Homo sapiens: one gene and its partner. The protein of the gene in region 1 binds, or shares a complex with, the protein of each later gene. Each region holds a gene or a part of one and is shown on either strand. Other genes may lie near its edges.

Evidence for each region.
Region 2: the proteins of AP1B1 (region 1) and ARF1 are in contact, whole or in part, in a cryo-EM structure (PDB 7R4H), measured with the Homo sapiens proteins. Residues at the interface, in NP_001118.3 of Homo sapiens: Asn23, Asp25, Pro52, Asp53, Val55, Asn56, Met58, Gln59, Met83, Ile85, Met86, Ala87, Val88, Asn89, Thr90, Val92, Lys93, Tyr121; in NP_001019397.1 of Homo sapiens: Glu17, Met18, Tyr35, Ile46, Thr48, Ile49, Gly50, Phe51, Asn52, Val53, Glu54, Thr64, Trp66, Lys73, Leu77, Arg79, His80, Tyr81, Gln83, Asn84.

What each region holds. Positions count from the first base shown.
Region 1 is NC_000022.11:29,353,971-29,357,881, reverse strand, and holds part of AP1B1 (AP-1 complex subunit beta-1), read left to right. Parts: intron 1-1,265; coding exon 1,266-1,456; intron 1,457-3,010; coding exon 3,011-3,232; intron 3,233-3,911. UniProt on the Homo sapiens protein: Subunit of clathrin-associated adaptor protein complex 1 that plays a role in protein sorting in the late-Golgi/trans-Golgi network (TGN) and/or endosomes.
Region 2 is NC_000001.11:228,085,471-228,089,381, forward strand, and holds part of ARF1 (ADP-ribosylation factor 1), read left to right. Parts: intron 1-3,911. UniProt on the Homo sapiens protein: Small GTPase involved in protein trafficking between different compartments. Modulates vesicle budding and uncoating within the Golgi complex. In its GTP-bound form, triggers the recruitment of coatomer proteins to the Golgi membrane.

The DNA of each region.
Region 1 (3,911 bases):
ACCCCATCTCTACTCAAAATACAAAAATTAGCCGGGTGTGGTGGCATGTGCCTGTAATCCCAGCTACTCAGGAGGCTGAAGCAGGAGAATCACTTGTACCCAGGAAGTCGGAGGTTGCAGTGAGCTAAGACTGCGTCACTGTACTCCAGCCTGGCGACAGAGCTAGACTCCGTCTCAAAAAAAAAAAAAAAAACAGCTGCCTGAGGCCGCGCGCAGTGGCTCATACAGGATTACATGCCTGTAATCCCAGCTATTTGGGAGGCTGAGGCGGGTGGATCACCTGAGGTCAGGAATTCAAGACCAGCCTGGCCAACATAGTGAAACCCTGTCTCTACTAAAAATATAAAAATTAGCTGGGCATGGTGGTGCGTGCCTGTAATCTCAGCTACCTGGGAGGCTGAGGCAGGAGGATTGCTTGAGCCCAGGAGGCAGAGGTTGCAGTAAGCCAAGATTGCACCACTACACTCCAGACTGGGCAACACAGTGAGACTCAATCTCAAAAACAACAAAAACAAGCTATGTGCAGTGGCTCACGCCTATAATCCTAGCACTTTGGGAGGTTGAGGTGGGAGGATCACCTGAGGTCAGGAGTCTGAGACTAGCCTGGCCAACATGGCGAAACCCCATCTCTACTAAAAATACAAAAATCAGCTGAGTGTGGTGGTGCATGCCTGTAATCAGTCCCAGCTACTCGGGAGGCTGAGGCATGAGAATCACTTGAACCCAAGAGGTGGAGGTTGCAGTGAGCTGAGATCACACCACTGCACTGCAACCTGGGCGACAGAGCACAACTCCATCTCAAAAAAAAAAAACAAAAAACAAAAAAAAACACCTTCCTAGTGGAAATGGATTGAGGGCCTGGAGCTTCACCTGGCAAGCCCCCATCCACTCCCAGTAGCCTCGAGGAGCTCTGCAGGAATCCCCTAGCTCTGAGAAGCACAGCTGACAAGCATTGAAGTGAGGTGCTGTTGCTGGTAGACAGGCGCTGCTGTGTTAGGAAGCTGAGAATGCTTTCTGTGGCTAAGCCCTTGGAGCTAGGTCTTTCTTGTTTTTCTAAATGGCAGGCACACTTGTTTTGTTCCAGTTTGCAGAGGAGTCAGCAGGGTGAGTGCTTGGAGTGGGTCTCGTTGCAGCTCCAGACCCTGCCCATTGGGTCATATTCCTTTCAGGATATTTGACCTCTGACCAGCCAGCATCATTAATGCACTGCCCCCTGGCCTGTGAGCAGCACCCCCAGCCTCTGCCCCTCCCACCCTCTCAACCAGGTGGTGGCCAATGCAGTGGCAGCGCTCTCAGAAATTGCCGAGTCTCACCCCAGCAGCAACCTGCTCGATCTGAACCCACAGTCCATCAACAAGCTGCTGACAGCCCTCAATGAGTGCACCGAGTGGGGCCAGATCTTCATCCTGGACTGCCTCGCCAACTATATGCCCAAGGACGACCGCGAGGCCCAGAGGTGAGCGGGCTGCCCGTTGCTTGCCAGCCCAGCTTGAGGACCCTGGTCCTCAGGGGCTCCAACCAGGCACTGGGCCTTGGGCCTTAGTGGGCCCCTTTCTAGTGCTTTGCCCCATAACCCACCCTCAGACACACCTAAAGGGAGGCCTGCCTGCTTCCCACCTCTCCAGAGCCAGGTAGACAGGAGAGTTGCCTTGGGCAGCTATGGGCATACGCATGGCCTGGCCTTGGAGCTGGCAGAAGCCCAGGGCACCTCTTTTGAGTTCAATAGGTGGGTAGCGCCAGAGCCACTGCTCATTGAATTCTCACTGGGTGTCTGGGGCTCTGCCGGGTGCTTTCCACACTTTAGAGTCTTTAATGCAACTTTTATCATCATCCCCCACTTTCCAGATGAGGGAGCTCCAGCTTAGAGAGGTGGAGGGAATAGTGCAGGTCCCCTGGCTGGGGCTCACCTGACTCATGGTCTTAACCAACAAGATACCCTCCAAGTCGGAGGAAGTGAGGAGTTGCCATCTATACAGTATGTACTACATGCCAGTACTGTGCTTGTTCTTTTTTTTTTTTTTTTTGGCAGGGTCTCTGTTCTGCAGGCTGGAGCTGCAGCCCCAACCTGCAGGGCTCAATCAATTCTCCCAGGTAGCTGGGACTACAGACATCTGCATGCCAACATGAGCAGCTAATTTTTATATTTTGTATAGAGACAGGTTTTCTCCATGTTGCCCAGACTGGTCTCAAACTCCTGGGATCAAGCAATCCACCCATCTCAGCCTCACCCAGCCTTGTTCTTTACATGCGTTGTGTCAGTTAAGCCCCTAGCAACCCTGTGAAGTAGGCATCATCATCTTGATTCTATAAATGAAGAAACTGAGGCTCAGAGTGATTTGAACCTGCTAGGGGTTATCAAGCAGCAGAACCAAGATTTAGATCTTTCTCCTACAAAAAACATGTTTGTTTGTTTGTTTGTTTATGACAGGGTCTCGCTCTGTTGCCCAGGCCAGAGTGCAGTGTCACAGTCTCAGCTCACTGCAGCCTCAAACTCCTGGGCTCAAAGCAGTCCTCCTGCGTCAGCCTCCCAAGTAGCTGGGACTACAGGCATGCACCACCATACTCAGCTAATGTGTAAAATTATTTTTAGTAGAGAAGGGTCTCATGATTTTGCCCAGGCTGAACATGCTATTTTTTTTTTTTTCGAGACAGGGTCTCACTCTGTTGCCCAGGCTGGAGTGCAATGGCGCGATCTCGGCTCACTGTAACCTCCACCTCCTGGGTTCAAGCGATTCTCATGTCTCAGCCTCCTGAGTACCTGGGACTACAGGTGCTTACCACCATGCCCAGCTAATTTTTATATTTTTTGGTAGAGACAAAGTTTTACCATGTTGGCCAGGCTTGTCTCAAACTCCTGACCTCAAGTGATCCACCCACCTCGGCCTCCCAAAGTGCTGGGATTACAGGCGTGAACTATCACGCCTGGCCTGGACATGCTATTTTGGTAACTAAAAACAGAATGTTTCCCCTTGTCTTTCCTGTTTGCCCCGTTGGAATGGACGGACCCCAGCATCTGTGAGCGGGTCACCCCCAGGCTCTCCCATGCCAACTCCGCTGTGGTGCTCTCTGCTGTGAAGGTGCTGATGAAGTTCATGGAGATGTTGTCTAAGGACTTGGACTACTACGGCACACTGCTCAAGAAGCTGGCCCCACCCCTGGTCACACTGCTGTCAGCCGAGCCAGAGCTGCAGTATGTGGCCCTGCGCAACATCAATCTCATCGTGCAGAAAAGGTACTGAGGTCACCACACGCACGTCCATGCGTACCCCTCGGGGAGCCTCTTCTGCTGGGAATGGGGGCTCTCAAAGGAAACTGACCTGTCACCATGCAGGAAGTCTCAAATAGCTTAACCCAGAATAGCTTAACCAAAGTGGCAGCTTTGCCCCCCTGAGGGATATTTGGTGGTGTCTGGAGATACTTTGGTTTTCACAGCTGAGGGGGGCATGCTACCGGCTTCTAGTGGGCAGAGGCTAGGAGTGCTGGTCAGCATCCTACAGTGCACAGAATAGCCCCTCACAGTAACTGTCCAGCCCGAAATGTCAGCAGTGCTGAGGTTGAGAAGCCCTGGCTTAACCTAACTAGGAAGCAGGCTATGTAAAGACTAGCTTGGTGATTAAACTAGATATTGTCTTCATAGTCCACGAGCTGTCCTGAAATGGGCTGTCAGATTTTGTGTATCTGTGTACATTTCTTCGGGGGACAGAGTCCGTAGCTCTAGTCAAACTCTCTGAGGTTGGAACCTTGAGGTCTGGGGGAGAGGTACATCGGACTCACTCCAAATGCTGTGCCGCCCACTTCCCTCCCATGAGAATGGCTGAGCAGTGAGCTGCTGCTCCCAGGGCACGTGGTATGGTAGTGGGGGGTAGGCGAGAGCAGAAAAACCATTGAGCAGTGCTGGATCGGAGGGGTTC
Region 2 (3,911 bases), on another chromosome or scaffold:
TCCTGTCACTCAGCCACCTACAGGGATGGGGAGACAGTGAGGCTGGCTGATAAGCCATAAAGTCCTTGACTAATCCTGGTTTCCTGGTTCTCACACAGTGGTAACAAGGGCTTGCAGCCGGTTGTCAGCCAACAGACTGGGAAGGGTGGTGCTTCTTACAGGCCCTGATAACAGGAGAAGCCTAAATGACAAGAGAAGAGACAGGGAAAGCATAAAAGGCAGGCAGATTTTCACAGGCACAGCAATTGAAAATGATTCTGTTTAGAAGGCAGACATTCTCCCACACCCTTGAGGCCCAGGGCTCACTGCTGGTGTACAGCATGAAGTGGACAGGAGAGTTGATTCAGTCCATGAACATTTCAGGAAGTTAGAAGTCTATAGTTGTGGATTGCAAAATACATATCTGGCCTGCCTCCCATTTCCTGGCTAAAATACTTGGAATCTCCGAAGTGATGATGTCTTTTTGTACCCTAATGAGTTGACCAGTGATGGGCAGCCCCTACGAAACTTCAGGGTAGGGCTAGTCACAGGGCCAAGGCAGGATTAGAGGGTTTCAGCCCCACCCTCCAATTTTCCCAGAGTGGAGAGGGACTGAAGATTGAGCTGGTCACCAATAGCCAATAATTTAATCAATCACACCTATACCATGAAGTCACACTTTTGCCTTCAGTAGTTAACAGCATCTACAGCCCCGTGTTTCCACATTTGTACAAAGGAATGTTCAGACTGAACCACACTTAAGTACAATTTTGAAACAGCATGAGGCTGGGCGTAGTGCCTCACGCCTGTAATCCCAGCACTTTGGGAGGCTGAGGCGGGTGGATCATGAGGTCAGGAGATTGAGACCATCCTGGCGAACATGGTGATACCCCGACTCTACTAAAAATACAAAAAAATAGGCCAGGTGTGGTGGTGTGCACCTGTAGTCCCAGCTACCCGGGAGGCTGGGGCAGGAGAATGGCGTGAACCCGGGAGGTGGAGCTTGCAGGGAGCAGAGATCGCGCCACTGCACTCCAGCCTGGGCAACAGAGCGAGACTTTGTCTCAAAAAAAAAAAAAAGAAAAAAAAGAAACAGCATGAAATTCCTTGTTGATGGGAAATACCCGAAAGGCCTGCCTGGGTTTTCAGAGAGCTTCCAGAAAGCTGAATTCATGGAGGTTCCTGGAGAATGGCACAGCCAGGAGGGAAAGGTAGCGCCGTGTCTCTTCCCTCATACACCGCCCACTGCATCTCTCCATCTGTATCCTTTGTAACATCCTTTATGAAAAACCAGTAACCTTTAGTGTTTTTCTGAGTTCTGTGAGCCACTCTAGCAAATTAATTGAACCCAAGGGGAAGGAGTTATGGGAACCCTGATTTATAGATGGCTGTCCAGAAGCACAGGTAAAATAACCTGGAGTTTGTGATTGCCTCCAGGTAGACAGTGTCAGAATTGAACTGAATTAAACGACACCTAGCTGGTGTCTGCTGCAGAACGCAGAACTGGTTGCTTGCTTGGCATGTAGGGAGAAACCCCTGCTCATGTGGTGTGAGAAGCGACCTGTGTTATAAGAGTGTGTGAGAAACTGAGTTTGGGTTTTCCTATGTCCTCAAAATAGTATATTTTGAAAGCCTTCTAGGCAGAATGTATTAAAATAGTTTTTACTCCCTGAAGGGATGCCAGCAAGCTAGAAAGATTCATTTCCAAAGGGCTTCCAGTGGTAGCATGGCTAGACATGAGACATCTTTCCATTTGTGTCATACAGCAAGTTATTTTTGCAGTACCATATACGCTATGCGGGAAACTTTTAAGTATTTTATAGGTTTGATTTAGGTACAAATGGCCAAGAAGCTATCATCTATACTCATCCTGGGGATTGGGAACGGAGGCAGTTAGATGTGCCTGTGCTTTGTACCTTCTGTAGATGGGAATGCAGTTGCTCACTCACCAATCAAATTTATTGATTTATATTTAAAATACTATGAATACATCTTCTGGCAATTTTGGTGGTGACATTTTCCTTAAAATATTTGTACTAGCCAGGCACTGTGGCTCACACCTGTGTAGTGCAATCTACTTGGGAGGCTGAGGCAGGAGAGTGGATCACTTGAACCTAGGAGGTCAAGGTTGCAGTGAGCTGTGATCATAACCACTGCACTCCAGCTTGAGTAACAGAGCAGGACCCTTAGCTCTTAAAAAAATTTATACCTACTCATCAGCTGAGGACCTGGGGGCAGGTTTAGAAAACAGATTTTGAACACACATCCTTCCCTCCCTCTTGTGTCTGACATCACTGAGCTGCCACACTTTTGCCTTCAGTAGTTAACAGCATCTACAACCCCATTTTCCCACATTTTTATGGTCAAAAGAATGTTCAGACTGACCCACACATGAGTACAGTTTTTAAAAAGCATGCAATTCCTTGTTGATGCGATAGGTTTTTCGTGACGAACTTAATTTTTAGGGAAAGCACATCTGCAGATGTGTACAGTTGATCTTCATGAGCCCTATGGGCCTGATAAACATTCTTTTGCCATTGTTTTCTCCTCTCCTTGGTGGTGAGTCACTTGTGCAGTGCCCAGCGGAAGAGGGTGGGAGGCTGGGGAGGAAGGCCTGTTCTGGGCAAAGGAAGCCCTGCTTGATGAGCATGAGGCTCCACGGGGGCAGTGGCTGTGACGGTGAGTGCCACACAGAGCTGCCCACACTGGTGGAGGGAAGGCAGGGAGATACCAGGACCATCCGGAAGGGGCTGAGTGTCATTTGACAGGTGCCATGTGAGCAGAGATGTGAAGGAGTGGCCCGGGACAATCAGGGCAGAATCCCTGAGGTGAGTGCGCTGGCTGGCAGAGTTTGGAGACCTGTCAGGAGTAGGGTGCATACTGGGTGGGAAGCCTGCTGGGGTGTGCAGTGGCCCTCGGAGGGGGTCCGCGGTTCCCAGAAAAAGGAATTTGGTAATCTGTGGTGGCATTTTTGGGTGGCAGCACTGGCACCTTTGGCAGTGGCAAGAACACTTCCTGTCTGACCTTCATGTAGGGGAGGTCGTCTGATGTCCCAGACCTGTTATAAATATGAAAAAAAAATTTTTGTGCATAGTTTTAACAGGTGTTCTGAAGTTCCAGGAACAAAATCACCTTATAAATCAAAGATGACTGTGTATTGTTCTCTTCAGAATCACAGCAAGAATTCAGTTTCCAGAAGGAAAAGCTACAGTAGTTGCTTCATGGACATGGCTTGCCCTTGAGGTTGGTGGTGTCAGTGCATGAGCAGCCTGGTAAGGGTGGTTCTCTGGCCGCCACCCTTGGTCCTCTAGCGTGGTTGTGAAGTCACTTTCCTTTACTCCCCATTGCATCATAGTTGGGACAGAGCAGTGGTTCTCTGCCGTCTTGTGCGAGTGCTGGGATGCTGTCTCTACTTCCTTTTGGGTTGCCAGAGGCAGCATTTAGAGCACAGTGTGGGCATTATGTTGTGGACCAAGGCAGCCTATTGCAAGGACCTGATCGGGCGGCAGCCGTGGGGCAGCTCTGAGTAGAACATCGGGTCACCTGGCTGACTGGTGTGCTGAGAACACGCAGGAGGAGGCTGGAGACGGGGTTCTTGCCTGGGGAACAGGAGGGAGGCTACTCGCATCACAGCGGAGAATGCCTGTTGGGTTTGGGAGGGGGGTTTCGGCTGCAAAGCTGGCTGTCAAGGGGCAGGAATTGGGAGGAGGGTCTAAAGTCTTGAAGAGAAATGTGGGGTCGTTGTGTAGGGGCCACCATCACCTGGAGAGCAGGGCAGATGCCAGCGTGTGTGTGAGAACTAGGTCACTTGAAGGGAGGTCCCCAGAGTGTCCCCGGGGTGTGCCTTTCTCTCACCTAGGTCTGGAGTGCCTCCAGAAGCGAGGATTTCCTGCAAGGGCGGTGGCCTCCCAGGGTCTGTGGGGGGGCATCCC